2 separate regions of the Homo sapiens genome follow, and region 1 is linked to region 2. The links come from fine-mapping of genetic effects on gene expression. A gene starts in region 2. The other region holds a variant in brackets. All regions are shown on one strand. Distances are from middle to middle.

What was found. PIP is the estimated chance that this variant, and not a neighbour inherited with it, causes the effect.
Region 1: its variant is the best candidate, but not a certain one, in a credible set for the expression of STK11IP in whole blood (TOPMed, PIP 0.88).

Annotation. Positions count from the first base shown.
Region 1 is chr2:219,642,907-219,658,947 of GRCh38, forward strand. No RefSeq gene overlaps it. Among named protein-coding and RNA genes, the nearest start is that of SLC4A3, 23 kb to the left of the region's middle. RefSeq lists enhancers at 600-1,371, 2,143-2,913, 2,914-3,683. The variant A/G (reference allele first, on the strand shown) is at 6,371.
Region 2 is chr2:219,588,053-219,604,093 of GRCh38, forward strand. STK11IP (serine/threonine kinase 11 interacting protein) reads left to right here and starts at 9,805. Exons shown (of 25, transcript NM_052902.4): 1 at 9,805-9,871; 2 at 10,042-10,128; 3 at 13,183-13,388; 4 at 13,589-13,663; 5 at 13,936-14,031; 6 at 14,416-14,523; 7 at 14,653-14,724. The coding sequence starts at 10,068. It also overlaps the pseudogene RN7SKP213. RefSeq lists enhancers at 9,757-9,976, 10,187-10,246.

The sequences.
Region 1 (16,041 bases), 55 kb after region 2:
AACTCCAGTGGGGAAGGCACCAGGCTCAAGAGGTGGAAGAAGAGACCCAGACTGGCAAACGAGACATGGGGTTTTACTGGGGCTTACATACAGGGGAGAGAGTCCGCTGGTGGTGAGCGGGGGCAGGAGAAACCACAACCGGTTGCAAAAAGCAGTTTCTATAGCATTTCCACTTAGCACCTTCACCCTAACAACCTCCACCTGGGGATCTTCATTCAACCCAGACTTGGGCCTGGACCTTTCCCTTTATGTCCCGTGTTCCACAGCCTGGGGCCTCAGATGTTTCTCATAGACAAGGAAGGACTCTCCAGGTTGGCGACTCCTGGATTCCCTAGCTTGGAAGATACATTCAGGTGTGCCTGCCACACAGGGCCATTCTCAGGCTGTGCTTAAGTTCCTGCGGTCAGGTGCGGTTACCATACACTCCTAGGTGTTCAGGCCAACAGCTGGTGCCCCGAAACTGGTCAGGAGAGAAGGGACAGGCCACCGTGAGGCTGTTTGTTGTGTTCCTAAGGAAGAGAAGAGCCCTCCAGCTGCCCTGGATTATTGTCCGGGTGTAAGTATTTTATTCCAGTCCACCTTGGCTCCCTGGGTCTCTGGTGCCATGTGGCCTCTAACTACATTTAGCCTCTCCTTTGTATGTGTATGTGAGGACAAGATTCCTTTTCCTTTAGATTGGCCAAGGCTGGGTGGAATTTCAAAAGAACTTTGCCAAGGAACAAAGTCAAGGTCAAACGCAAAACCTAGAAGGGACATGTGCAGAGAAGATTCCAAACAGAGATGTCAGGGGCCTCTCAGACAAGTTTGGTTGAGAGGCTTTGCATATGAGAACCCTGGTTCCTTCCTAGAGTCCTGCTTCTCCTTGCGGGCCCGGATGCAGGAAAGGCTCCCCTGTTTGGTCTCGGGGATTCCTAGACCCCACAGGAAGGAACTGCACTTTTTCCAGCCCCTGCAAGGAAATGTCTGTGTGGGCCCAGAAGGTGGATTCCTCATTGGGCACAGTTGGTGTCAGTCATCTCGCGGCTTGGCAAATAGCCGGGAACTGTGGGTGTTCCTCCACGGCAAAATGAAAAGAGGGGCGGGGCCTTCTGACAAGGGGAATGAGTCCTGGTCCCGGTTGGTGGGTCAGGGTGGACTCCAGCAAAGCTAGGCCTTGAGGCCTCAGAGCAGTAGGCGAAAAAGCTTCAGTGACAGCCAGTGATAACCGCTTGTCACCCTGGCAGCCTTACTCATTTAAAGACGACCCATCTATGGCAAGGGAGGGCGGCCGTAGTTTAGGAAGGGCAGGAGGCGAGGGTTAGCTAACATTCTGAGCTCACCCAACACACCCAGCACACTCAGGGGGACCATGGAGGGTTGAGAAGACCCAGGACGCTGCAGCAACCAAAATGGCTGCCAGGGATGGAGACCCAGAGGGATAGGAGAGGAAAGAGAGACCCAGCTTGGCTGTGTGACACAGGGGATGAGCTCCATTGTAGCTACTGGAGAAATCAGAGGCTGTGGGGCCACAGAGGGAATGGAAAACGTCTCTCTTCTTTTCTTGATCTCTGGCCTTCCGAGGAGCAGAGATAGCAGCCCAATCCCTTAGACGCCAGGGTGATGCCGGATTTGGGGACCCTGGACCATTTTAGATTCTGCTGGCTTAGAGAGGCAGTTCTGGGATTCCCGAGGCCACTCCTTGTGCAACAGTCTCAGTTTTGCCAGAAATAACCTGGCGGACAAGATACACGGCAAACCCACAGAAAGGCAACCGGGACTGGCCTGGGGCCTGGCTGGCCAGAGAGCGTGTCATATGGGGACATTCAGAGTTTGTCCTGAAGCCCTTTGTAGCCCCGGTGTTTCCTCTGACTTTCTCTTTACCGGGCCTCTGAGCTTCTCCTCTCGGAGTGCTGGGGCCCTCAACTCAGGCCCTCTTCAAGGTGCAGAGGAGAGTTAGTGGAGGGGAGCCCCAGCCGGCCCTGATGGCCCAGCTCTGGGGGGTAGGACAGGACAGTTACTAAAAAGGGGACAAAGGCCATTGTATTTTCGAACATCCGGCCTCTCTGCCATCTGCTCTGGACTGGAAGCGGCTTTGGGAACGTGCACGTGCACCAGCCCTTCAGTAAGGACATCCGGCCTGTCGCTATTTCCCCCGCCCCTTACTGCTTTCCGAGTGGGGTTATGGCCACATCTTGGGTAGCTGCCCAAAGCTTTCATTATCCCCGGACAAGTGCAGGCCCACTTCAGGCCCTGAGGAGTGCTAGCTCATTCTTTTACTTTGGGCAAAGAGGGCGGCTGTCACTTTCTTGTTCATGCTGAGGATTCGGCTCACTCAAGATATCTGATGCCCTTGTGACAGCGTCTGGCTGTCAGAGCTCATAGACCATCTGCTGGGACTGCCCTAGGCCCCTCCTTTAGGGCACAGAACGTGGCAATAATGTGTCCCATTTGGCAGCCTGTGTGACATTTCTTCTTGTATCTTATCAGGTGACTCAAATAATGATCATGCCTGTTGACACTTGGAGCTCTCAAAGGGAATTCTGAGCAGCAAAGGAAAGGTGACACAGAACTCAAGGGCACTGGCGCTGAGCGCTGCCCATGCAGCTGGCAATTAAGCCATTGCCGAAAACAACAATAAAACAGATTTTGGGCAAGTAGGGAATGGTGGATTGAATCCAGTGTGGCAAAAAAGGAAATGCAAAGTGAGGAATGTAGTTTCCAGATAAATAAATTATATAATTGTGATTCACCACTTGTGCAAAGAGCAGACTCCAGTGTTTGTAGGATTTATGTTCTGGAAGGAAGATTTAATATTTGAGCCTACTGCTGAGATTATTTTTAATTTTGTTGGAACTGTTTCTTTTTACTGAACAATGCTTTATTAAGTGCTGACTAAGCGGACAGCCACTGGGTTGTTCTCTGGATGGTGGATGAGTCACAGTTGGGTTTGGGAGATGAGGGGAGGAGCAGGGAGCTCTTTAATGCCAGCAATTCCAGGGACAAGGCTTAGGACCATGGGAGAGGAGGGACAAAGAGGGGGTGGGGCACAGCTGGAGATGAGGAAGGGGCTGGGAGCAAGGGCTCAGAGCTGGTGGGAAGGTGGGGGTGAGGGGAGCGTGGAGGAGGGTGCAAAACCAGACTTTCATTCGTGAGTCCCTGAGCATCCCCTGCCACGCCTCCTCTCTCACTGCACGCCCATTGCGTGTTCTTGTCTGTCTCCCTATAGGCTGTGAGATGGGCAGAGACCTGGCCTGAGTCACCTTTGTACTCGTAATGCCTCCCACAGTGCCTGGCCACAGGGGTGCATGGAGGGTAAGGGGGTGAGCAGTTGGCAGAGAAAGAAGGACCAAGAGGTCACAGTCTCCACCACATTTAGATCCAGTGAGCAGTGCGTCCTTGTCTGTGACAACTGGTTATCATAAGAGAGACCATAGCGGTCCTTGCGCTCTAGGGCCACCAGGGAGCTCATGCAGCTTTTCTAGGCTTGGGAGAGAGAAGGTGGGTTGGGGGAGCTTAGGAAGGACACACTCTCAGGAAGTGGTGTCTCTTCCAGGGACATCCAGCCTAGACTATAAGGTCCGGAGCAGCTGGTCAGGATATCAGGCTCTTGAGATAGGTGGATTTGTTCTACGAATGTGGCCCACACAGCAAACAATATTTTAAACTTAATTTTTAAAATTATTTTTACTTCAATAGGTTTTGGGGAACAGGTGGTGTTTGGTTACATGGATAACTTCTTGAGAGGTGATTCCTGAGCTTTTGGTGCACCCATCACCCGAGCCGTATACACTGTACCCAATCAGCAAACAACATTTTAAAATAACTAAGTTGTGTCAACAAATATAAAGCAGCAAGTCCTCAAAACTACTGAAAAGAGCCCAGAAGTGGGGAACATTTCTCTGAGATCAGAGGAGTCCTTAGGCAATATTTCCCCAAGTGGGGAAGGATACCAGTAGTGGTGTGTGAGATGATTTTAGGTGTGGTTTTGATAGTTTAGCTGTCACAGTTATATATTTTCATGTGTTTTAGAAAAAAATACAATGAGTACTTGAGCCCCATAATTTTGCAGACAGTATTGTGTAGGATAAGTCTAAATACATATGTTAAAACTAGTGAATTGATTTAAAGGAAAAGTACTAACTTTATAACTGTACAGTTAGTAGGCATATGATATGGTTTGGATCTGTGTTCCTGCCCAAATCTCATGTTGAACTGCAATCCCCAGTGTTGGAGGTGGGGCCTAGTGAGAGGTGATTGGATGATGAGGACAGATTCCCCCTTGGTGCTTTTGTGATAGTGAGTGAGGTTTCATGAGATCTGGTCATTTAAAAGTGTGTCGCACCTCCCCCCTCTCTCTCTTACCCCTGCTCTGGCCATCTAAGACATGTCTGCTTCTCCTTCACCTTCTGCTATGATTGTAAGTTTCCTGAGGTCTCCCCAGAAGCAGAGCCACTGTGTTTCCTGTACAACCTGCAGAACCACGAGCCAATTAAACCTCTTTTCTTTATAAATTACCCAGTTCCAGGAATTTCTTTTTTTTCTTTTCTTTTCTTTCTTTCTTTTTTTTTTTTCAAGACAGAGTCTCACTCTGTCACCCAGGCTGGAGTGCAGTGGTGCCATCTTGGCTCACTGCAACCTCTACCTCCCGGGTTCAAGCAATTCTCATGTCTCAGCCTCCAGAGTAGCTGGGATTACAGGTGTGCGCCACCATGCCGGGCTAATTTTTGTATTTTTAGTAGAGATGGGGTTTTGCCATGTTGGCCAGACTGGTTTCGAACTCCTGACCTCAAGTGATCCACCCACCTTGGCCTCCCAAAGTGCTAGGATTACAGGCGTGAGCCACTGCACCTGGCCCCAGTTTCAGGTATTTCTTTATAGCAGTGCAAGAATGGACTAATACAGCATACACAGCAAGAAATTGTGACAATGCCAGGGAAAGGACTAAAATGTCAGAAATCATTGCTTCAAGTCGGAGGATCTTAGCTCTGGTTAAGCGCTGGAATCACCTGGAGTGTTTCAAAACATATCAGTGTCTGAGCCTCATCTCTACAGGTTCACACTGGCATTAAATTACATTAATTAATTTTTATTTTTTGTAGAAATAGGGTCTCACTATGTTGTCCAGGCTGGTCTTGAACTGAGCTCAACTGATTCTCCAGCCTTGGCCTCCCAAAGTGCAGGGATTACAGGTGTGAGCCACCATGTCAGGCTCACACTGGTATTTTATTAAACATTCCCCTCCCCCGACATCCCCTCAAAACCCCAGAGATTCTAATATGGAGTCAGGTTTAAGAACCATTGTCCTAAACCAATATATTCTTTCCTATGGTTGATTTCCACTACAATTTCCACTGTGGTTGAAAGTTATTTCTTATTATTGCTTCTCCTTGGTATGAAAATGCAAATACACAGTATGCATATTTATTTTAGAAAGTAAGCTTGAGGGCAGGACCCATGCCTATTTCTATTCTGTTTATCAAGCAACAGAAAGGGCTGCACATAAACGCATGGACTTAGGAAGGGGAACAATACACATCAGGGCCTGTTGGGTTGGTGGTGGGTGAGGGGAGGGAGAGCATCAGGACAAATAGCTAATGCATTAGGTGATGGGTTGATAGGTGCAGCAGACTACCATGACACACGTATACCTATATAACAAACCTGCATGTTCTGCACATGTATTCTGAAACTTAAAGTTAAAAAAAAAAAAAAAGAAAGGGCTGAACGTAGCACGTTCTAATGTTTAGGCTGCTTGGTTGGGACTGTGATCTGTGAGCACCTCTCTTGCTCTGCTGGCTTTGCTGTTGTTGATGGCATTACAGTTGAGTGGCCAGAACATGGGGACTGGCAGTCAGGAATCCTCGGCTTTGGCCTCACCTCAGGCACTAGCTGGACTTTGGTTAAGTGGCCTCATCTTTCTGAGAGATTAGGAATTTGGCTCCAGCACCTCCTTCATAGACCATATTCTTTCAACAGACCCTGATCACTGCAGTGGTTTTGCTCAGGAAGCAGGGGGTTCAGGAGGGGGGAAGCAGTGGCTGTAGTGCTATAGGAATCCCCAAATAATCTCTCAGCAGAGTTACTAGGCTTAGGAACTTTCTTCTTTAGTTTCGCCACGTCAAAAGGTGTGTAGATCCTGGGGGAGTCCATTTTTGCATTCCTAGGGGAGTCAGAAACTCAGAGACCACAGAGGGTGGGATGGGTAGGGTGAGGGGGTGGGGGTGAGCAGTGACTTGGAGAATGATCTCAGGATATTGGACAAAGCTGTGACGTCACTAGAATTCAATTAGGTGACGTTTAAACATCTATAAGAGGTGTGTGGTCCTATGAGATAAGAAGCACATGAAAAGGATGCAGGATTCTGTAGAGATAGATGGACAAATATGTAGTT[A/G]TAAGCCTTAATGGTCACATAAATACACAATCAGGTATAGAACCTGGATAGGGAGTTATGGACTACACTCTGGCTTGACCTTTAGTAACTGATCACTTGTAATCAAGGGACTAGTCTACTCAGCCACCTCCATCTTTAAGTTAGAAAGTTAAAAACTGGAAATAGGGCTCTACAGGTCCATAGAGTCAGCAGCTAAGATGCAGTCGGCATCCCACCCAGAATCTCTGGTTGATTAGCAACCTCAGGTGGCTGAGAAGGGAATACCTCTCTTGTGGATAGACATTTTACTAGCCCTGGGAAAATTTATTTTCATCTCGTTTAATTTTTTTAGCCCTGGGAAAATTTAAAATTAAGCACACAAATGTTTAGGGGAATCAAAACTATAGTTTTCATGTTTTCAAGTTAAAGAATTTGTGCATATATAATATTTGTGTAGGCATAATTTTAGAGAATTCGGCCTACTGGAATATTAGACCACCTTCAATATTTCATTTTAATGTATGTACTTGAATAATTGATTGAAATTTGTGATAAGTTGAAATATTTCCAAGTTTACATATAGTTTGGACATTGAAGAGAATTTAAGGTTCACTCTGTCTTGTATGCTGAATTTATTAAATCTGTAAGAATTACTTTTGTACTTGGGAAGTTTTATCAGTCAGATGAAATACTTAAAAAGGAATTGAATTTATTAAATTTATTAAGTGCCATTTAAAATGTTAAAGACTTTTAATTAACTAAGTGTGTAAATGGGGCTAAGCATTAATCAAAACCCTCTCAAAGTGATTGTTAATATTTGCTAGACTTATAAATAGGACAATAAGATTCCTAAGGTGATTTTAAAAGCGTTAAGGAAGAGCTATAAATTTCTAAATCTATAAATTTAATAAATTGAATACTGATTTTCAAAACCCCAGTAAATCTCAGAGTGGTCTTTTCAGTGCGCAAAAGCCACCCTCAAGGACATAAGACATAAAATATTTTCCTAACCAGTGAGTCTTCAGCAGTGCAGGGGGAGAGAACGGAAGTGGGAAAGGGAGAAAGGAAAGTAAGATTTTAGTGTCATTGGATTGTCTTGTTCCCAAGGTCAGGCTAGATGGTATATTCTGCACCATGCCAAATTGCTCATCTCACAGGAGACTGTAATTAAACACACGCTTACTGTGCGGGGGATCAGAATTGCTGAGGAGGGTATTTGGCAACTAAGAAAGCAGGTTAAATCGTGATGGCTTTGGGGTCTTAGCAGTCCCTCTCAGTAAGCCCTTCTAAGTTACATTCTACTGTTCTGTTTGCTGTTAATTATTCCTCAGATAATTTCCCCTGAGCAAGAATAAGGACATTCTGTGGTAGAGGCTGAGGTTTTTGTTTCCCAGGGGGTTTGCTGCTGAGAGCCAGTGGGAATGTGTATCAGTCAAAATTCTTATTTGCACCAAACAGAAGCCAGCTCCAGCTAATTTAAGCAGAAACAGGGCTGTTGAAAAGCCATTCACAGACACTGGGAAGGTAGGAGACTCCAACTCAGAACCATGGTCACAGACATGCCACAGAAAACATCCGGTGGCAATGTGGCTGTTGCTGTGGAACGTGAGATGCCACAGTTGCGCCCCTGGTGGGGGATATCACCCCTGGAACGGCCACCAGGAGGATTCTGCACTGCCCCTCTTCTCTGCATCCATCACTAATACCTGCATCCATCACAAGGTCTCAGGTGGATGTTCCTGACTGGCTTATGTCATGTGCCTGTGTCGAAGTTGCTAGAAGGCTGGGAAAGAGGCTTTTGGCATTTCAGCTTCTGTGGTGGGAGGCAGCTCTGGCTCTGACACTCAGTAGTGATGTGTTGGAGCTAGCTTACAAGAGCTGCTTGTAAAAATTTCAGGGACTTGTGAACTGGTTGTTAAACATAGTCATTATTAAAAAGTAAATTATAGTAGATATACTGTTTCTATTCCTCTTGCAAAGTATAAAAGAAATATAAGTCTCTGAATGGAGGCAAGAAGAAGGCAGACCAGCTAGGGACCTTGGGACCCAAGGAATAATACATTACTGAGTTCCTTGTATTTTCTTTTTGTGTCATATATCCCAGACTTGGAGCTGAAGAAGCTGGCAATGCAGAAATGCCAATAGGTGTAGGCAAAAAAGCCCCAACCAAAGTCTGCTCTCTCTAGTCAAAGGGGTAGGAAAGAAGAAACAGAGCAAGACAGAAAACTTTCAGACAGTAACAGCCAAATGCAGCAGAAAAATCTGTGATCTCCCCATCCCAACTCAGGCTAACAAAGGCTAAATTGGCAGCTTATACTTCCAACCTTGAGAAACTGTCAAGGCACCTCAGTACTCACGATGAAGTGATGTCATAGGAGACCAAGTAGAGCCTGGACTTCCAGCCCCATCTAGCAGTAATAAGGCACTCTTCCTCCTTCCCACTGTGTTGGGAGCAAGCCCCCCAAAATCTGGCCATAAACTGGTCCCAAAACTGGCCATAAATAAAATCTCTGCAGCACTGTAGCATGTCCATAATGGCCCTAACGCCCAAGCTGGAAGGTTCTGGGTTTACGTGAATGAGGGCAAGGAATACCTGGCCCGCCTAGGGCGGAAAACCGCTTAAAGGCATTCCTAAGCCACAAACAAAAGCATGAGCCATCTGTGTCTTAAGGTGTGTTCCTGCTGAAATTAATTCGGCCCATCCCTTCATTTCCCATAAGGGATACTTTTAGTTAATTTAATATCTATAGAAACCATGCTAATGACTGGTTTACTGTTAAGAAATATGTGGGTAAATCTCTGTTCGGGGCTCTCAGCTCTGAAGGCTGTGAGACCCCTGATTTCCCACTTCACACCTCTATATTTCTGTGTGTGTTTCTTTAATTCCTCTAGCGCCGCTAGGTTAGGGTCTCCCTGACCCAGCTGGTCTCGGCACCACTGGATGGTGTCAGAGGATGCCTAGTGGGGAGTCAGAACCTTTGTAATCATTCAGCAGTAAGAGACAGAGAGGGATACTATGTAATGATAAAATAGTCAATTCACCAAGAAGACATAGCAATCCTAAATGTACATGTACCAAACAACAGAGCTGCAAAATAGGAGAAGCAAAACCCAATTGAACTGAAAAGAGAAACAGACAAATCACAGTTGTAACTGGAGACTTCAACACCCCTCTCTCAACAATTGCTAGAACAATTGATAGCTAAAGTCAGCAAGGATATAGAAGAACTCAACATCAACTGAGAGGATTTAATTGACATTTATAGAACACTAAGACTAAACCATCAGAATACAAATTCTTTTTGCATGTTCATGGAACATATACCAAGATAGACCCTATTCTGGGCTATAAAACACATTGCAACAAACTTAAGAGAATTAAAATAATATAGAGTTTTCTGACCACAATGGAATTAAACTAGAATAACAGAAAAATAATAGGAAAATCTCCAAACACTTGGAAACTAAACCAACATATTTTAAGTAATTAATGAGTCAAAAGGGAAGACTCAAGGAAAATTTAAAAAATTATTGAACTAAATGAAAACTAAAATATAGCACATCAAAATTTGTGGGACACAGCCAAAGCAATGCTGAGAGGGAAATATATAGCATTAAATGTGTACATTAGAAAAGAGGAGAAGTTTCAAACTAATAATCTAAGCTCCCACCTGAAGAACCTAGAAAAGATAAGCAAACTAAACCCAAAGTGAACGGAAGGAAGGAAATAATAAAGATAAGAGTAGATATAAGCAAAATTGAAAACAGAAAAACAATAGAGAAAATCAATGAAACAAAGAATTTGTTCTTTGAAAAGGTCAATAAAATTGACAAATCTCTAGCAAGACTGACAAAAAGGAGGACACATATTACCAACATCAAGAATGAAACAGGCCGGGTGCAGTGGCTCACGCCTGTAATCCCAGCACTTTGGGAGGCCGAGGCAGGTGGATCACCTGAGGTCAGGAGTTTGAGACCAGCCTGGCCAACGTGGTGAAACCCCATCTCTACTAACAATACAAAAATTAGCTGGGCGTGGTAGTGCATGCCTGTAATCCCAGCTACTCGGGAGGCTGAGGCACGAGAATTCCTTGAACTTGGGACACAGAGGTTTCAGTGACAGAGTGAGACTCCGTCTCAAAAAAAAAAAAAAAAAAGAAATGGGATATCACTGAAGACCTTGCAGCAGACATCAAAGACTGATAAGTGAATACTATGAATAAGTTTGCACACATAAATTTAGCGACCTAGATGAAATAGACCATTTCTCAAAAAACCACAAATGACCACAACTCACTCTATATAAAAGAGCTAATTTGAAGCTGGGCACCATGGCTTGTGCCTGTAATCCCTGCTGCTCAGGAGGCTGAGATGGGAGGATCACTGCAGTCTAGGAAGTCTAGGAGTTTAAGGCTGCAGTGAGCTGTGATCAAGCCACTGCACTCTAGTCTGAGTGACAGAGTGAGACCCTGTCTCTTAAAAAAAAGAGACAATAGCCCTGTAATGAATAGCCTCTAATGAATAGCCCTGTAATGATTAACAAAGCTAATTTCTTAAATTAAAACTCCTCCTCACCTACCCCACCTCCAAATTTCCAGGCCAAGATGGTTTGACTGAAGAATGTTACTAAATATTTAAATAAGAATTGCTACCAATTTTACACAACCTCTTCCAGAAATAGAAGAGGAGGTAATACTTCCTAATGAACTTTATGAAGCTAGTATTCCTCTGATATCAAGACCAGACAAAAATAATCCCCAAAAAAGAAATCTAAAGACTAGCATCTCTCCTGAATATAGATGCAAGAAATCTTTAACAAAATATTAGCAAATATAATTCATCAATATAGAAAAAAATTATATATCATGATCATGTGGAATTTATTAGAGATGAAAAGCTGTTTCAGTATTTAAAAATCAATTATGGTAATCCACCATGTTAACAAGTTAAAAAAATCACATGATCCTATCAATTGACACAGAAAATGCATCTGACAAAATTCAACATCCATTTATGTTAATAACTCTTAGGAAAATAGAAGTGGAGGGGGGCTTCCTCAACTTGACAAAGGGTGTCTACACAAAATCTACAGCTAATATTGTACTTAATGGTGAGAGAGTGAATGCACTTCCCCTAAGATTGGGAACAAGGTAAGGATATCCTCTCTTACCACTCTTATTCAATCCAGTGCTGGAAGTTCTAGCTAGTGCAACACGCAAGAAAAAGAAACAAAAGACATACAGGTCAGAAAAAAAATTGTCCCTGTTTGCAGATAACATAACTGTCTACATAGAAAATCCTAAGACATCTATAAAAATGAAAACAAAACAAAAAAACTTTTGGAACAAGTGATTTAGTTCAACAAGAATCATAGGATACAAGATAAATATACAAAAATCCATTGCATTTCTATATATTAGCAGTAAACACATGTATACCAAAATTAACAGTACAATACCATATGCAGCCCACTCAAAAGTGAAATACTTTTTTATAAATCTAATAAAAATTTACAGAATCTACATGCTGAAAACTTCTGTATTAGTCTATTTTGTGTTGCTATAAAGAAATACCTGAAACTGGATAATTTATAAAGAAAAGAGGTTTGTTTGGCTCATGATGCTGCAGGCTGTGCAACAAGCATGTGCCAGCATCTGCTTCTGGTGAAGCCCTCAGGAACCTTACAATCATAGTGGAAGGGAAGGGAGGAGCAGGCGTGTCATAAGGTGATAGAGAAAGCAAGGGGGTGGGGAGGTGCCACACTGTTTAAAAACCAGATCTTGTGGTAACTAATAAAGTGAGAACTCACTCATTACCATGAGGATGGCACCAACCCATTCTTGAGGTATCCACCCCCAGGACCCAAACACCTCCCACTAATCCCCACCTCTAACGTTGAGGTGACATGAGATTTGAAGAGGACAAATATCCAAACTATATTAACTACTCAAGGTTGATGAAAGAAATCAATGAAGATCTAAATAAATGGAGAGACATACTACGTTCCTGGATTGGAAGATTCAGCATTGTAAAGTTGTCAATTTGTCCTAAACTAATATATATAGGTTTAATGCAATTTTTATTGAAATCTAAGCAAAGCTTTTTTGTAGATATAGACAAAATTATTTTAGAATTTATATGGAAAGGCATAGAAACCAGAATAGCTAAAATAATTTTGTAAAAGGAGAATAAAGTGGGATGAATCAGTTTACCTGATTTTAAGACTTATTATATAGTTACAGTAATCAAGACTGTGTGGTATTGGTGGAGGGATAGTTGCAAAGACTGATAGAACAGAATTTAAAAACCTAGAAATAGACCAACATAAATATACCCAACCAATTTTTGACAAAAGGTGCAAAAGTAATTCATTGAAGAAAAAATACCCTTTTCAACAAATGGTGATGGAGCAAAAGGACATCCATTGGCAAACACAAACAAACAAAACTCTGATATAAATCTCATACCTTATGCAATAATTAACTCAAAATAGATCATAGAATTAAATGTAAAACTTGAAACTATAAACATTTTTAGAAGAAAACAGGAGAACATCTTTGGGTTTAGGGTTAGGCAAAGAGTTCTTTGACTTGACAACAAAAGCATAAAAGGAAAGAAAAAATTGATTAAATAGACTTCACTAAAATTTTAAAATTTTATGCTGCAAAAGACCTTGTTAAGAGGATGAAAAAACAAAGTACAGAGTGGGAGAAAATATTTGCAAACCACATATCTAATAAAGGACTAGTGTCTTGACTATATAAAGAATTCCTCAGGGCCAGGCATGGTGGCTCATGCCTGTAATCCCAGCACTTTGGGAGGCTGAGGCGGGTGGATCACGTGGTCAGGAGATCGAGATCATCCTGACTCACACAGTGAAACCCCATCTCTACTAAAAATACAAAAATTAGCCAGGTGTGGTGGCATGTGCCTGTAATCCTAGCTACTCGGGAGGCTGAGGCAGGAGAATCGTTTGAATCCGGGAGGCAGAGGTTGCAGTGAGCCAAGATCATGCCACTGCACTCCAGCCTGGGTAACAGAGCAAGAGTCTGTCTCAAAAAAAAAAAAAAAAAAAAAAAAAAAAAAAAAAAAAAAAAAAAATTCCTCAATCTCAACATCAAAAAACCAAACCATCCACTTAAAAAATGGGCAAAAGACATGAAGAAAAATTTTACTGAAGAGAATATGCAGATGGCAAATAAGCACATGAGAAGGTGTTCAATCTTATTAGCTATTAGGGAAATGCAAATTAAAACCATAATGAGGTATCACCATACACCTATCAGGATGTGAGAGAGAGAAAGAGAGAGAGACAGAGAGAGACAGAGAAACATGAAAAATAGTGATATCATCAAATGCTGGCCAGGATGTGGAGAAACTGGATTACTCATACATTACCAGTGGAAAGGTAAAATGGGACAACCACTCTGGAAAACAGTTTGGCAGTTTCTTAAAAACCTAAACATACAACTACCATATGACTCAGCAATTGCACTCTTGGGCATTTATCACAAAGAAAGGAAGACTTATATTCACACAATAAACTAAACAAATGTTTATAGCAGTTTTATTTGCAATAGCCAAAAACTGAGACAATGCAGATGTCCTTTAATGGGTGAATGGTGAATGGTGCAGTGATAAAGAATAAGCTTTTGACGCACACAACACAGTAAACTGTGTATCTCCAGAGAATAGCACTGAGTTGAAAAAGCCATTCTCAAAAGGCTACACAATGTATGATTCCATTTATACAATATTCTTACAGTGACAGTGTTGCAGAAATAGAGAACGGGTTAGTGGTTTCCAGAGGTTAGGGAGGGGACAGCTACAAAAAGGCAACTTGGGGGACCATTATTGTGATTGAAATGTTCTCTAATTTTGCCCCGTCCATGTCAATATTTTGGTTGTGACACTAATCTTAAAATAAAATGTATAATTAAAAAATAAATACATTATATTCAAACACAGGTAAATACATTATATTAAAAATAAAGGTACTAAACACTCAAAATTCATGACTTCCCAATTATTTTGTTACTTTTACTATTGTCTATATTCTGGAAGTTATTTATGTCTGTTATATCTGTATGGTGGAAATATTCTATAGTGATGTGCTATGGCACATTTCTTCCCAATTCTGCATTCAGTGATGTCACACTAATAGTTTGAAATTGGCCATTGTGGGAGTATTTACACCAGAGAAATCAGCAGACACTACAAATTAGGTCCTCCCCTCCTTTTTTTCGTAGATGGTTGTTAAACTTTTACCGGGACTGCTTTTAAGTTAGGGAATTTCTCATGCATAGGAAGTGGGTTTAGATGCTGGATGACTCCACCTCCCAAATAGCAAATGTCAATCAAAAAATGGATAATGTCTCAGATCAGTTATAGAGGAGGAAGAAGCTGGCTCTTCCTAAGGCTATTTCCTCTCTACCTCATTGCTTCCCTCATTTTATAAAAGGCTGTTGTGGACTGTGGTTGAAGCAGATGCTGGAGGAATGGAATCCTGGCTGTTTATAATCTCATTTCTTTAATATCCAGCATAGAGATGGCAGGATGGTAAAACTACAAAAAAATGGAGTTTTATGAATGCTCAGATCTCTTTTACACTTTTCCCTAGGCACTGCTGTTTCTAATCTTTCTCCATCAAAGTCAAATCCTTTTGTTAGCATTTTGATCTAGGGACCATGTAGCTAGTTATCAGCTTTGCTCTTCTGCAAGCTTTTCCATTCCTTGTGTGTCTAATTGGCCATAAATGAGATGGAAGCGGGAAGAGATGGGCCTGTGGATCTGATGAACCATCCTAGTCTATATTACAGCTATGGTGAAAGGTCCAAAGGCCAGGTCTGTATAGACAAGGGGCCACATGGTCATTGGTTTTAAGGAGTTCTCTTCACCCACTAGAGTTACGAAACTGGCACTGGCAGCATCCGTGGTCCTTGCCTCACAGAGAGGGGGGACCTCTCTGTAGCCACAGTGTGGCCAACACAGAACCGGGCAGAGATAAGAGACAGACAGACAGACAGAATCTTTTTTGGGCTGAGTCCCTGGGAACCTTTAAGTTCCTGGTCCCTGCAGCTTGTCCTCCCTAGCTAAATTCCATTTTCGGTTTAGGCAAATTCTAGTTGAGTTGTTTGGCACAAGCAGCTGAAAAAATTCCAGATAAACACATTCCCTACAGAGCACCCCTCATCCATATAGCCTCTCTTTCCTCCTCTGGCTCCACTCTGGAAACTATAAATGTGATCTAAAACTTCCAGTCGCAACCTAAAACCATGGGACACCTTTCCACCTAGAGATTTGGTTAACTTTGAAAGATAGGCTTCAGAGGTCCCCTGAGAAGCTGCCTTTCTCCTCTGTGCTGCATCCAGCCACAGAGTTGAGTCAGAGGCAGGGAAACAGCATGATTCTGCTGTTTTACAGCCTGAAAGAAACATCTGGACGGGAATGCACTTTTTTCTTTTTCAGAATACAAGAAACCTCCAAAAATCAAGCCGAATGTTTTTGAGAAACATTTTGTGGTGGTAAACGGATTGGGTGCAAAGACACCTCCGTCTTTGATTCCCATAGTCCCTGATTTATTTTGGCATGGGAGTGTCTGTAGTGCTACCATTCAGCCACATGTTAATTTTTTGTCTACGCAAGGTTGTAAACTGCATATGGTTTATTTCAATTAGCTTAATTGTTTTTGG
Region 2 (16,041 bases):
TCATGGAGAGATGTGCTCTGCTACAAGGGTTTTTGATAAAGGATTAATTTTCTTAATCAACATATTTTGCAAGAATCAATGTTATTATTTTTAAAGCAAAATTAGAAATGCTTCTGTTCTCAAAACATCAGGATGAGGCCAGGCGTGGTGGCTCACGCCTGTAATCCCAGCACTTTGGGAGGCTGAGGCGGGCAGATCACAAGGTCAGGAGATCGGGACCATCCTGGTTAACATGCTGAAACCCCATCTCTACTAAAAATACAAAAATTAGCTGGGCGTGGTGGTGGGTGCCTGTAGCCCCAGCTACTTGGGAGGCTGAGGCAGAAGAATGGCATGAACCTGGGAGGCAGAGCTTGCAGTGAGCCAAGATCCCGCCACTGCACTCCAGCCTGGGTGACAGAGTGAGACTCTGTCTCAAAAAAAAAAAAAAAAAAAATCAGGATATTAGGACACTCCCACATCTGGGTCTGTTTAGTAAACATCTAGAGGCTAGGAGTACCTAAGTTTCTGGAAATGCAGCCCAGCAAGTCCCAGCCTCATTTTCTTCGCCCTCACCAAAGATGGAGTCGCTCAGGTTCGAACACCATGACAGTTTCAGTTACTCGTGGTCAACTGTGGTCTGAAAATAGGTGAGCATAGTACAATTAGGTAATCTGAGAGAGAGACCACATCCACATAACTTTTATTACAGCATATGGTTATAATTGTTCTATTTTACTGTTAGTTATTGTTGTTAATCTTTTACTGTGTCTATTTATATTTATATTTTTATGTATTTATTTATTTTTGAGACAGTGTCTCACCCTGTCACCAGGCTGGAGTGCAGTGGCGCGATCTTGGCTTACTGCAACTTCTGCCTCCCAGGTTCAAACGATTCTCCTGCCTCAGCCTCCTGAGTAGCTGGGATTATCGGTGCCTGCCACCACAGCTGGCTAATTTTGTATTTTTAGTAGAGACGGGTTTCTCCACGTTGGTCAGGCTGGTCTCGAACTCCCAACCTCAGGTGATCCGCCCGCCTAGGCCTCCCAAAGTGCTGGGATTACGGGACTGAGCCACCGCGCCCAGCCTACTGTGCCTAATTTATAAAGTAAGCTTTATCATAGTCTCTATGTGTAGGGCAAGCTTGTCTGACCCACGGCCCATGGGCCATATGTGGCCCAGGATGACTTTGAAAGCAACCTAACACAAATTCATAAACTTTCTTAATACATTAGGAGGGACGGGCGCGGTGGCTCACACCTGTAATCCCAGCACTTTGGGAGGCCAAGGCGGGCAGATCACTTGAGGTCAGGAGTTCAAGACCAGCCTGGCTAACATGGTGAAACCCCGTCTCTACTAAAAATCCAAAATTAGCCGGGTGTGGTGGTGCACGCCTGTAATCCCAGATACTCAGGAGGCTGAGGCAGGAGAATTGCTTGAACCCGGGAGGCAGAGGTTGAAGTGAGCAGTGATCATGCCATTGCACTCCAGCCTGGGCAACAGAGTGAGACTCTGTGTCCAAAAAAAAAAAAAAAAAGAAATTTTTTTTAAAGTTCATCAATTATTGTTAGTGTATTTTATGTGTGGCCCAAGACAATTCTTCTTCTTCCAATGTGGCCCAGGGAAGCCAAAAGACTGGACACCTTGGTGTAGGGAAAACATGGTATATAGAGAGTTTGGTACTATCTGTGGTTTCAGGCACCAATTGGTGGTGGAGGAGGTCTTAGAAAGTAACCCTCTGAGGGTAAGGTGGGACTACTATTTCTAAGCATTTGGGATGGGAGGGAGAGGCTCTGACAGGTATTCAGCTTGCAGTCTTGGACTGGAACCATCTCCTACAGTGCTCTCTCTACCATAACTTGCCCCATGTTTGTGATAGGCAGGAAAATGGCTCCCCTCCCAAAGATGCCTATATCCGAATCTCCAGAGCCTGTGAATATGTTATGTTACGTGGCAATGGAGAATTACAGATGGAATTAAGGCTGCTAATCAGCTGACCTTAAAATCATTTTCTTTCTTTCTTTCTTTTTTTTTTCAGACAAGGTCTTACTCTGTCGCCCAGGTTGGATGCAATGGTGCAGTCATGGCTCACTTTAGCCTTGACCTCCCAGGCTCAAGCAATCCTTCCACCTCAGCCTCCCAAGTAGCTGGGACTGTAGGTGCATACCACCATGCTTGGCTAATTTTTGTAGTTTTCATAGAGACGGGGTTTCCCCATGTTAACCAGGCCGGTCTCAAACTCCTGGGCTCAAGTGATCCACCTGCCTTGGCCTCCCAAAGTGCTGAGATTACAGATCTGAGCCACTGCACCTGGCCTGACCATAAAGTAGGGACATTATCCTGGATTATCCAGGTGGGCCCAGTGTAATCACAAGGGTCCTTAAATGTTGAGAGGGGCAAGAGAGTTAGTGTCAGAGTGATGTGATGTGAGAAAGACTCAGGCAGCCATTGCTGGCTTTGGAGATGGAAGGGGGTCACAGGCAAGGGAAGACGGCAGCCTCTTGAAGCTGGAAAAGACAAGAATACAGATTCTCTGGCCAGGCATGGTGGCTCACACCTGTAATCTCAGCACTTTGAAAGCCTGAGACAGGAGGATCACTTCAGGCCAGGAGTTCAACACCAGCATAGGCAGCATAGCAAGAAGCCATCTCTACAAAAGATCAAAGGATAAAAAATTAGCTGGGCATGGTGGTGCACACCTGTGGTCCTAGCTACTTGGGAGCTTGTTTGGAGGTTCTAGCAGGGGTGCACAGTACTCGTATACCCTTGACCAAAGACCAGTCCTCCTCTATCGGGGACGGTCATCTTCTTCAACTGAGCGCACAGCTTCAGGAGGGACGCCTATGGAGAGGTGAGGGAGGAAGGAGACACCCGCCTAGCCAGCCAGATTAGCCGAATCAACCTTGGTGATCAATGGGGTGACAGAAGTTGCAGTCATATTACCCTTACATCCAGTCCTAGCTGCTTGGGAGGCTGAGGCAGGAGGATCTGTTGAGACTGGGAGATTGGGGCTGCAGTGGGCCATGATCACACTACTGCACTCCAGCCTAGCCAACAAAGCGAGACCCTGTCTTAAAAAAAAAAAAAAAAAAAAAGAATACAGGCTCTCCCCTGGCGAGAAAGAAGGAACACAGCCCTGCTGACACCTTAATTTTAACCCAGTGTGACCCATTTTGGACTTCTGACCTTCAGAAATGTAAAGATAATAAATTTTGTCATTTTAAGCAACCAAATTTGGGGTAACCTGTTGCAGCAGCAGAAGGAAGCTGATACAATGTAACATGACTGGTGGTGTCTGCTCTTCCACCACTTGGCTAGCTTCTTGAGAACAAGAACACCTTTGTCTCCTGTATTTACCTAGAATCCTTTTTTTTTTTTGAGACAGAGTTTCGCTCTTGTCACCCAGGCTGCAGTGTAATGGCGTGATCTCAGCTCACTGCAACCTCCACCTCCTGGGATGAAGTGATTCTCCTGCCTCAGCCTCCTGAGTAGCTGGGATTACAGGCGTGCACCACCATGTCTGGCTAATTTTGTATTTTTAGTAGAGATGGGCTTTCATCATGTTGGCCAGGCGGGGCTCGAACTCCTGACCTCAGGTGATCTGCCCTTCTCGGCCTCCCAACAAGTGCTGGGATTACAGGCATGAGCCACCACACCTGGCCTATTCACCCAGAATCTAACACAGGATCTGGCACACAGTCAGGGCTCAGTAAATACCTGTTGAATGAACAAAAGACCGAAATACAGCTCCAGCTTTGTGGTTCTCCAGAGGTTTTGAGCGTCCAAAGCAGCCTCTACGCTTACCCTAGTCCTGGAGACCCTAAGCCATGTGATCTCAGTTTTCTCGTTTCCTTTCCCCCATTGGCCCATGCTTAACACTGCAAGGCTGGCTGCTATTCTTTTGTTTGTTTGTTTGTTTTGAGACAGAGTCTCCCTCTGTCACCAGGCTGGAGTGCAGTGGCATGATCTCAGCTCACTGCAACATCCGCCTCCCGGGTTCAAGTGATTCTCCCGCTTCAGCCTCCCAAGTAGCTGGGACTACAGGCGTGCACCACCATGCCCAGCTAATTTTTGTATTTTTAGTAGAGATGGGGTTTCACCATGTTGGCCAGGATGGTCTCAATCTCTTGACCTCGTGATCTGCCCGCCTTGGCCTCCCAAAGTGTTGGGATTATAGGCGTGAGCCACCGCGCTCGGCTGACTGCTATTCTATGTGCAGTTTCCTCCCTTGCTGTGGATCATTCCCCTCCTCTCTCTGGCCATGTGTGTAGGGAGCACTGAGATGGAAGACACTTGTCACATACTATAGGTGATTTTGCCAACCAGCCTTCTGCGGGTTATGCCTGAAACAGCAGGTTGTGTTTTCCTTCCTGTCTCGGATTCTGTCCGCTTTCCTCTCTTCTCCATAGCCACCTCTATCCATATTTTCTATCAGGTTTCTGTCCTTTGAAGACCAATTCTTTTCTTTTTTTTTTTTTTTTTTTTTTTTTTTTTTACTTATTTACAATATTCTTCGGGTCTTCATCTCTCCATTTCCTGTGTCCTGAATGAAGCGCATAGTTCTGGTCTTTCTTATAGCCCTTCTTAACCCCCTTCTCAAATGGTTCCATGGCTTTCCGGGATAGACAATGAAAATAATTAAAGACACTCTCATATAACGTCGGGTTTACTGCAGAGCTCCTCATGGAAGCACTCAGTTTATTTTATGCAGAATGGTCAACTCCTCTCATAAGGGGAGAGTGGAGCGGCTGCTGGGTCACTGGAATATTGTTATTCTGTTGCTTTCTTTTCAGTCAGTCATTCTCAGGCCCCAGCTTCTCTGATTTCTCGGTGAGCTTAGTTTCTGCCTCCCCAGCTTTCCCTCTGTGTGCCTCAAATTAAATCTCTTCCGGAACCAGGCTCTGATGAGCGTGCCTGGTCATGGTCTAACTCGGAGTTCTCATGCCAGACCTCCTCCAGTGTGGCTGATGTGTCCTGTATGTTTTTGACTTTGGTAACTGAGTTAATTCCTGGGCCAGTCTTTTGTGGCCAAGTCTAGTAGCAGAGCCAAGGTTACTTATAGAAAGAACTACCTCCGGCCACTCATCCTGGGGCTGTGGCTACTAGGCATACGGATTCCTCTCTGGTACAAACTCTTTTTACCAAAACTATATTTGGAGGTAATCATACCTTTTCATTCTCTTCCATCCTTCCCCCTTTCCTACTACACAAAGATAGCAAGTTTTTTCACCTTGTTGCCCAGGCTGGAGTGCAGTGGTGTGATCACAACTCACTGCAACCTTGAACTCCTGGGCTCAAGCAATCCTCTCGCCTCAGCCTCCTGAATAGCTGGGACTACATACACCCACCACCATGCCCAGCTAAAGATAGCAAGATGATGAAACAAATAGATCATCCAATTTCACCCCCCTTCACCCCCAACCCAAGTGTAACATTTTCATTTTGGTGGAATCCGTAGGTCTCAGTTATCTGATCTTCTGTTGGGGGCTGCAGCATCAGAACAGGGAGGTCTAGACCCAGGACAATGGCTTGTATCCTAAAGGTGAAATATGACTTCTGTTCCCCTGTAGGCAAGGATCCTGGGTCTCGCATGGTTCAAGGTATCAGAAATAAGCAGGATCTGAGATCTATATTATGCGGCTGGCAGTCATTCTTCATTCTTGTATGAAGATACTCTCTTCTCCCTTCTTTTTTCCTTTTCTTTCTTTTTTTTTTGAGATGGAGTCTCAGTCTGTCTCCCAGGCTGGAGTGCAGTAGTGTGATCTCAGCTCACCGCAACCTCCGCCTCCTGGGTTCAAGCGATTCTCCTGCCTCAGCCTCCTGAATAGCTGGGACTACAGATGCACACTACCACGCCTGGCTAATTTTTGTAGAGACAGGATTTTGCCATGTTGGCCAGGCTGGTCTTGAGCTCCTGACCTCAAGTGATCCACCTGCCTTGGCCTCTCAAAGTGCTGGGATTAGAGTCATGAGCCATCACGCCCGGCCTTCTCCCTTCTTTTCATCCCCGAAACCTAAGCTAGTAACCAGCACACCTTTCCTTACCCTCTTTTATCATCAGCACTTTGCACAGCCTACTCCAGGAAACTCGGGGTGGTAGGGAAGCTACCAGCAGCAGCTCTCTCTCCACACAATAACATGGGCGTGGAGCCCCAGGCAGATGAGTAGTGCCTCCCTAGTACCAGAGTGCTAGGAATTCTTTGTCATGTGCAGCTGGTGTTGGTGCTTAGAAGAACCAACTGGACATTTCTGATTTTAGGTGGAGTACCAGTCCTGGAGACTAAAACTTAGAAGAGTGTTTGCAAGTTAACAGAGTGATATCATAGCATGTCTTCGAGAAACACAGACTCATTGATGATAGTATGAAATTATGTAATAGCAGCCCATACATGTTATGCTACTTTACAGCAACATGAATTTTTGAAATGGCATTGCATACTTTTTTTTTTTTTGAGATGGTGTCTTGCTCTGTCACCCAGGCTGGAGTGCAGTGGTGCGATCTCGGCTCACTGCAAGCTCCGCCTCCTGGGTTCACGCCATTCTCCTGTCTCAGCCTCCCGAGTAGCTGGGACTACAGGCACCCACCACCACGCCCGGCTAAATTTTTGTATTTTTAGTAGAGACGGGGTTTCACCGTGTTAGCCAGGATTGTCTTGATCTCCTTACCTCGTGATCTGCCCGCCTCGGCCTTCCAAAGTGCTGGGATTACAGGCGTGAGCCACCGTGCCAGGCTGCACACCATTTTAATAAAGAGAATTTTTTTTTTTTTTTTTTTTTTGAGAAGGAGTTTTGCTTTTGCTGCCCAGGCTGGAGTGCAATGGCGCCATCTCAGCTCACTGCAACCTCTGCCTCCCTGGTTCAAGTGATTCTCCTGCTTCAGCCTCCAGAGTAGCTGGGATTACAGGTGCCTGCGACCACGCCTGGCTAATTTTTGTACTTTTAGTAGAGACAGGGTTTCACCATGTTGGCCAGGCTGATCTCGAACTCCTAACCTCAAGTGATTCACTTGCCTTGGCCTCCCAAAGTGCTGGGATTTTGGGTGTGAGCCACTGTGCCTGGCTGGGTCATTTTTAATGTCCTAAAGTTCTCTTGTTCTCTTCACATAGATCTGGCATATTTCTCAAAATATTATAAGCATGTGTGTATTTGTATTTATATCTATAATTTATTGATTTTTTGGCTGCTATGATGAATGGGAATTTTTTTCCCTTTTAGATTTGCTAATCTAGACTTCATTTTGTAAAGGTTTTGTCTTAGTTGAAGTTCTTATGGTAGCAATTTACAGAAATACATTCAGATTAACTTAGGCCAAAAAAAAAAAAAAAAAAAAGCGGGGGAGAATTCTCTGGAAGGCAGCCAAGGCCTCCCCTACAGGCCAAGGGTAGAAAGGAGAGTGGGCCTCACAAGGGGGAGGGAAACAAGAACTACGGAGTCTCCTGTTGCTTTCCCTTAGTAGATCTATTTTTCTCTCCCTCTGTAGTTCAGCTTTCTTTGCTTCTCCCTTTGTCCACTTCCATGTTTCTGAGAAGCAAAGGGATATAGAGCAAACCTGGCTACAGGGGCTACCCATGTGGGTGGAGCAATTCTCAGAAAATAACTATGGGTTGAAAAGGCACGGCTGAAACAGATTTCAAGACACTGCAATGTCAGTGACTTGAAAAGAATCTGTTTCTTGCCTAAGAGGGGTAGAGTTGGCAGTTACTGTTTGGGAGAATCTGCCCTTCTAAGTTCCAGATGATTAATAAACAGGGACTGACAATCGTCAGGTTATGGGATTAATAATTCAACAAAATATACTGAGCTCTTACTCTGACTTTATATTTGCATACTAGTTAGCTGTTGTAGGGGCTGAAAAGTTGTGATGCCTTTCTTCCTCATCATAAGGGTCAGAGCTCGTATAACAAGATAGGTTAAGAGAAAAATCTAAAATAAACTAAGAAGTTTATTTAATCAAAGTTTTACATGACATGGGAGCCTTCAGAAATGGCTACCCAAAGAGCCAGGGAAAACTTGTTTTTAATGCTTAGATTCTATGAAAAATGGACAGCCTGCAGTAATGTGGTTGGGCAAAAAGTGTGCCACTTAATAGTAACAGACAGCAGGTGGAAACCCAACGAGGTCTTTCTGTGTAGCATTCCTTCCTCCCAGGTATGAGGCAGGATCTCTTCCAGAATGAGGGTCTTACGGCCTATCAGACAAGGTAGGCCAGAGAAGTTCTTTACGGCCAGCTTGTTTTTTGGACTGAGTTTCCCTCCTGTTGCCCAGGCTGGAGTGCAATGGCGTGATCTCGGCTCACAGCAACCTCTGTCTCCCGGGTTCAAGCGATTCTCCTGCCTCAGCCTCCCGAATAGCTGGGATTACAGGCATGCACTACCATGCCCGGCTAATTTTGTATTTTTAGAAGACACAGGGTTTCTCCATGTTGGTTGGGCTGGTCTCGAACTCCCGACCTCTGGTGATCTGCTGGCCTCGGCCTCCCAAAGTGCTGGGATTACAGGCGTGAGCCACCGCGCCAGGCCACGGCCAGCTCTTACATAGAAAGGTGGGGGGAAGTTTAGGTTTTATGGCTGGCTTTGGGGGAGAGGGCTTCTAGTTTCTGTGACTCATCTTGGGGAAGAGGAATTCTGGTTTCTATGGCTTGCCTTGGGGAAGAAAGAAGGCTGGGAGACAGGAGGGCAGGAAAAGGTCGGAGAGACTGTGCCTGAGGCCTTCCAGTCTCTTTTAGTTCAAAATAGTCAGCATACCAAAGCGCCGTATTTTGGGGTATTGTTTTTCTGAGCTCAACACTGCTGCTTCGGATGTATCTCCACTTACTTTATTTAACCTAAAAGGCTTTCAGCTCAGAGCACAAGTAGTATGCCATGAATGCGAAATTGTGTGGTTCAAATATTCAAAATATTTGAAATATTTGCCATTTCAAATATTTTGTCTTGAGAAAATAAAATCTTTCAAATCTGGCAACTTGGGATAAAGATGACTATGATCCTATCCCTCCTTTCAACTGGCTTAGGATTCATTTTGATTTTCCTCTGTAGAAATGGGGCGCTTCATGAAAGAAACTCTCTCTGAAAACCAGGAATTCTGTTAAAAGACCTTTTTGCTAATCTAGTTCAGTAGTTGACGTTAGCATTTGACGGGGAGCCTGGTGAAAGCTACCATGAGAATTCGGAAGCAAGAAACTGGCAGTCCTGGCGCTACTGGTTACTAATTGAACGACCTTCGCAAGTAACCTAGCCTCTGTGAACCTGTTCTCATTTTCAAACGCGGTTGAATAACTACTTTTCAACTAGGATGTTATGAAAGGTAATAGGGTAAAGACAAAGGACTAGGTTCGCGTGGAGCCCAGTACTGCTGAAGGAAAGATACACGAGTTTGGAGGGAGTCTAAGGAAAAGGAGGCAAAGGACCCCGGAGGTTATATCCTCGGTGGCCTCAGCTTTTACACGATCTAAGTCCATCCTACGGCGGATACGCTCTCCTTTCACTGGAAAATGACTGTTTGCGTTGAAAAAATTTTTATCTAACAAAGCTCCATTTCTCTAAACTTTGCTTCCCCGCCCAGTTTGCAAACGAGTCAGGGTTTCCTCACCGGCGCGGTAGGCTCGCCGAAAGCCAAGCGGGAGCCCCAGGCTGCGCAGGGCGGGGGAATAATGGGTGCCCAGCTCCGGGCCAGGAAGCCCAGGGAACCACTGCAGCCACCACCGCGGTCAGGAGACAGCCCCCGCACCGCCCCTTTTCGATTCGTTTGCATGATCTACGGCGCGGTTTCCGGCGGCAGAGACATGTTTTCCGGTCGTCCCTTGGCTCGATTTTCTTCCGGGGCGGGACTTCCTTTCCATCATTGATAGGCGCCGGGCAGCTGAGCTGGTAGGAGGACCAGACGGGGAGGTTCGGTATGTCTGACCAGGACTTATGTTCCTCGAAAGGGCGGCCAGGAGGATGCTCTTCCTCTCTTTTCTTTCTCGCCTTTTTCTCCGCATGACGCCTCGGTTTGCGCGGACGCCCTGGGCTTTTGGCACTACCGCCCACCTGAGGCTCTTCCGCTTCCTCTTTCCCCCCCCAGGCTCCGCCCCCCAGCGTCCCGTGGCCATGACGACCGCTCAGAGGGACTCCCTGTTGTGGAAGCTCGCGGGGTTGCTGCGGGAGTCCGGTGAGTGGACTTCCGGTTGGGCTGGGCCTCGGACCTCGGACGAGGTGGGGGTGGTGCTTTCTGGAGACACGCCCTGAGAGTCATGGAGTTACGACTGGTAGGGTCACCAGGTGTCAGAGTTCAATTTCTTTACTTTTCCCAGGTTTGTTCGCCCTTACAGTGTCCTTTGCCTGTGATAGCCTAAACTCTAGCCGTCCTTTGAGGCCAAAGGGCGGTATCCCTCCCTCCGTGCCTTCTCTGACACTGTCAGAAGGAAGTGATCATTACCTGACTAAAAGCCCCTCAGGACCAGGGACTGATCTCGGTCATAATCATTATTGTGTAGCAAGGTACTAAATACAGTAGATAGAAGCACGAGATTTGGAGTCGGACCCACTTGGGTTGGAATATCAACCCTCTTTCAAACTTGCCATACTGTTTCCTGAGGCTCAGTTTTCCTCACAGATTGGCATAGTGATTGTACTTAACATTTGTGGGGATTCGTTTTAATTCATGTATTTAGTACAATGCCTGCAAGTATAGTAACTGCTTACAGTTGGGAGCTATTGTTATTGTAATGATTTCCCTGATGCTTGGCACTGTGCCTGGGCATAATGGAGCCACAGTAGTTGTTGAATACTTGGTTGGCATTAGTTGTGGTAGAAAAAGCCTTGGCTTTGAGATCAGATAGGAGAAGTAACTTCCTACCAATTATATGATCTCCATCAAGATTTTTCACTTTTTTGAACCTCAATTTTCATATCTGTAAGATGGGGTTAATAGTGCTTCTCTTTGAGAGATTCTGAGAAGGTTTGAATGAGATACCAAAGTCATCTGGTACATACTACAGTTAATGTTAGCTGTCCTCCATCACTCCATGCTCCTATTGACGATATCTGTGGAAGCTCTCTTTATAGCAGTTTTCTTTTCTTTCTTTTCTTTTTTTTGAGACAGAGTCTTGCTGTGTCACCCAGGCTGGAGTGCAGTGGCGCAATCTCAGCTCACTGCAACCTCCACCTCCTGGGACGAAGTGATTCTCCTGCCTCAGCCTCCTGAGTAGCTGGGACTACAGGTGTGCACCACCATGACCGGCTAATTTTTGTATTTTTAGTAGAGACGGGGTTTCACCATGTTGGCCAGGTTGGTCTTGAACTCCTGACCTCAAGTGATTAACCTGCCTTGGCCTCCCAAAGTGCTAGGATTAAAGTCGTGAGCCACAGCACCTGGCCAGTAGCAGTTTCATTTCCTGGCTTGTATTGATAACTTTGCAAATGTCTTATATCCTTCTCTGGGAGGAGACAACTAGGAGGCCCTTTGAACGTGGGAAGAGTCCTTGAACCATGTCTGTATCTATCCTCAGTGTCTAGTACATACAGAATCCTTCATGTCAGGTTGTAGGACTTGTTAATTTATTCAGTGATGAATGGTGGGTGTGTGAATGTGTGACTACAAGGAGGTAGCAGGAGAAGAGCTTTGTGGCAGCAGAATAGTTTTGTATCTTGATTGCGTGGCTGCAGGAATTTATATAAACAGCATATAGCTATATATACATATTGTACCAACATCAGTGTCCTGAATTTTTTTTTTTTTTTGAGATGGAGTCTCGCTCTGTCACCCAGGCTGGAGTGCAGTGGTATGATCTCGGCTCACTGCAACCCCTGCCTCCCTCCCAGGTTGAAGTGATTCTTCTGCCTCAGCCTCCCGAGTAGCTGGGACTACAGGCATGCACCACCATGCCCTACTAATTTTTGTATTTTTAGTAGAGACGGGGTTTCACCATATTGGCCAGGCTGGTCTTTAACTCCGGACCTCGTGATCCACCCGCCTTGGCCTCCCAAAGTGCTGGGATTACAGGCGTGAGCCACCACGCCTGCCCTTTGTGTTTTTTTTTTTGTTTTTGTTTTTTTTTTTTTTTTTTTTTGAGATGGAGTCTACCTCTGTCACCCAGGCTGGAGTGCAATGGCTCAATTTCGGCTCACTGCAACCTCTGCCTCCTGGCTTCCAGCTGTTCTCTGGCCTCAGCCCCTCGAGTAGCTGGGATTACAGGCGCATGTCGCAATGCCCAGCTGAGAATATTTGTATTTTTAGTAGAGACGAGGTTAGAGTCGTAGAATAATTTTTTGTGTTTTTAGTGGAGACGGGGTTTCACCATGTTGGCCAGGTTGGTCCTGAACTCCTGACCTCAAGTGCCTTGCTCCCAAAGTGCTGGGATTACAGGCCTGAGCCACGGCAACCAGCTCAGTGTCCTGACTTTGATATTGTACTATAGCTATATAAAATGTAACCATTAGGGAAAACTGGGTAAAGGATACAGGGGACCTTTCTGTATTATTTCTGCAGCATTCTTTGACTCCATACTTATTATATTTTTTAAGCCAAAAAAGCATTCCTTCATGCCTAGCTTGTAGCTGCACTTTTTTAGGTGCAGTGATGAATACCAGAGTGATCAAAAGATGCCCTCAAGGATGAAAGTCTCATTAGAGAGAGCAGTTTTAACAGACAGCAATAACAATGCCTTAGTGCTATAATGAATAGTTATTCTATGACATACTTTTTAGTATTGTTTGAAAGTTTCTACAGATGTGCTTTGCAATCAGAAAAAGAAAGAAAGATAAAACTTCCAATTAACTTTTGTGTAATAATGAGTGACTGCAATATGAAAATTCAGCAGTATTACTTCTTGAGGCGGCTTCCTGGAGGAGGCTGGTCTCAAGCTGGGCGGTGGAAGGGGGTGTCTCATAACAAGAGAGAACTGTGAACCAAGCTGGCTGTATTTCCAGCACTGTCAGTAGATGAGGCTCTTTTGAGCAGAAGGTGAAAGAAAATTTGGAAGAGTTGGTTGGAGTTGTGTAGCCAAGCAGTCTCATCAGGCTGAATGAAATGTTAGGACTTTTTTTGAAGATGAGGGGAGCCATTGAATGCTTTTGAGCTGAGAAGGAGATAGAAAATTTGATCCTGCAATAGAAGATCTACAATATGGATTGGAGTGGGTATATTTTGGCATCATAGAGCCTTAGAATAAAGAGAAAAATCTTTTCACTGTGTCTTCCCTCCTGTTTGCCCCTTTTTCTGCAGGGGATGTGGTCCTGTCTGGCTGTAGCACCCTGAGCCTGCTGACTCCCACACTGCAACAGCTGAACCACGTATTTGAGCTGCACCTGGGGCCATGGGGCCCTGGCCAGACAGGCTTTGTGGCTCTGCCCTCCCATCCTGCCGACTCCCCTGTTATTCTTCAGCTTCAGTTTCTCTTCGATGTGCTGCAGAAAACACTTTCACTCAAGGTTCTGGGTGTGGGGAAGAGGCAGGATGTGCAAGGAGCCCAAGAGAATGATGGAAGTTGGGGATAGGGTAGGGGTGCAGAAGTCTGCAGTGCCAGGATCCAGAGGGTGTCAGAGGTACCAGTGGTTGTGCTAAGGAAGGAATGTTGAGGGCAGGAAGATCTGCTGTGCCTCAGTAAATTGAGTTTTTTTTTTTTTTTCAGCTGGTCCATGTTGCTGGTCCTGGCCCCACAGGGCCCATCAAGATTTTCCCCTTCAAATCCCTTCGGCACCTGGAGGTATGGGGACACGGGGGGATGTTGGTGCACAGCACCCAACTTGAGGCAGCCCCTTGGGGATGGGAAAGAGAAGAGCCTCTTTGGTGAGGAGGCCAGGCCTGAGTATACCCATTGCTCTGCAGTCATGTGATATCCACTGTCTTTCCATTTACTGCTTCCCTAAATCATAGCTGGGCTTTGTGGTCTTCTCCCTCCTCCCAACTAGGGGATGGGGATGAGGTCTTTGTCTTCTGTGGGGTTCTGCCTTCCTCCCTCCTCTTTCCTTGTCCCAGCTCCGAGGTGTTCCCCTCCACTGTCTGCATGGCCTCCGAGGCATCTACTCCCAGCTGGAGACCCTGATTTGCAGCAGGAGCCTCCAGGCATTAGAGGTAAGGAGAGTGAGGGGTGAGCTCAGACACCTCAACTTGAGAGATGTAGAAGACCAAGCTCTGATGTTCTCCCCTCTCTGCAGCTCTCCCTGCCTCCTGCTTCCCTCTAGACAGTGTCCTCACTCCCTCTCTGTGTTCCCGCAGCACTCTGTAACTGCCTGTATATTTATAGTCGTACCTACCATATTATATTACATATTCTAGTGTCTACCTTCCCACTGTCCCTACAGTGAGTTCTTGGGTCAGGGACCTGGGCTTTAAGCCTGTATCTTCAGATGGAGTTCAGTGTATAAAAAATGAATGAGTGACTGGGTGGTAGAGCTTGGCCTTGGCATAGGGAGGAAGGGGAGGGTGGGGTAATGAAGCACCCATCTGTCTGCTCAGGAGCTCCTCTCAGCCTGCGGCGGCGACTTCTGCTCTGCCCTCCCTTGGCTGGCTCTGCTTTCTGCCAACTTCAGCTACAATGCACTGACCGCCTTAGACAGCTCCCTGGTGAGTGCCTCAGAGGGAAGAGGGTTTCGAGGAAGGGCAAGGCCAGGCCTTTGGGGAGGAGGGCCAGCTGGTTGACCAGATAGTATTGTAGTGAACATCGATTCTCTGCCTCCTCCCCGTCTCTCTCAGCGCCTCTTGTCAGCTCTGCGTTTCTTGAACCTAAGCCACAATCAAGTCCAGGACTGTCAGGGATTCCTGATGGTGAGTATGGGCAGTTTGGCAGCTGGCACACCATGGGTCTTTGATTGCTCTGCTCTCACTCTCTCTCCTTGACCAGCTTTTACTCCCACCTTGCTCTTGCCATGAGGGTGGAGCTGCATTCTGGGAGATAGCACTGCTTAGACACTAGCATCAGACAAACCAGAGTTCATATCTCAACTTCTAATACCTGTGCAACTTTGAGCAAGTTAGTTACCTCTTGGTTTCTTTACCTGTAAAGTAGAAATCACAAGAGTACCTGGTTTTTTTTTTTTTTTTTTTTTTTGAGATGGAGTCTCGCTCTGTCACCCAGGCTGGAGTGCAGTGGCGCAATCTCAGCTCACTGCAACCTCTGCCTCCCAGGTTCAAGCAATTCTCCTGCTTCAGCCTCCCAAGTAGCTGGGATTACAGGCACGTGTCAACACACCTGGCTAATTTTTGTATTTTTAGTAGAGATGGGGTTTCACCATGTTGGTCAGGCTGGTCTTGAACTGCTGACCTCAAGCAATTCACCTGCCTTGGCCTCCCAAAATGCTGGGATTACAGGCATGAGCCACCACGCCCGGCTGAATACCTGCTTTTATAGTATTAAAATGATTGTGAAGAAGTACCCAATGTTGCTTAGTCTAGTGCCTAGCTCAGAAACTGGTAGCTTTTGTGATTATGATGAAGAACCTTTCTTCTGGGTCCTCCCATCCACCTGTCAGAGATAAAGCCGAACTAGTTAAAGTGGTAAGGACAGATTTTTTTTTTCTTTTTTTTTTTGAGGCAGAGTCTTGCTCTGTCACCCAGGCTAGAGTGCAGTGGTGTGATCTTGGCTCACTGCAAACTCAACCTCCTGGGTTCAAGCAGTTCTCCTGCCTCAGTCTCCCGAGTAGCTGGGATTACAGGTGCCCGCCACCATGCCCAGCTAATTTTTGTATTTTTTAGTAGAGATGGGGTTTCACCATCTTAGCCAGGCTGGTCTTGAACTCCTGACCTCATGATCCGCCCACCTCAGCCTCCCAAAATGCTGGGATTACAGGTGTGAGCCACCGTGCCCGACCAAGTAAGGACAGATTTTTTATCAGTGATAAACTATTGCAGCGGGGAAGAGGGTGCAACCTGAACTGAACGCCACTTCAATTTGTGCAGAGGTGGCTGGGCATTTTAAAAGGAGAGTGAGGGAATAGGAAGGGGAACTGTGAGGGCTTGAGCAGAGTAAGGGAAGTGGAAATGTACGAAAAGCAGAAGTGGAGGTTGATTCACATGAAGCCCTTCTGGGTTTGCTAAAAGTTAGGCTCCTACCTTCCCACAGAGACTGGGAGATGGGAGCCCTGT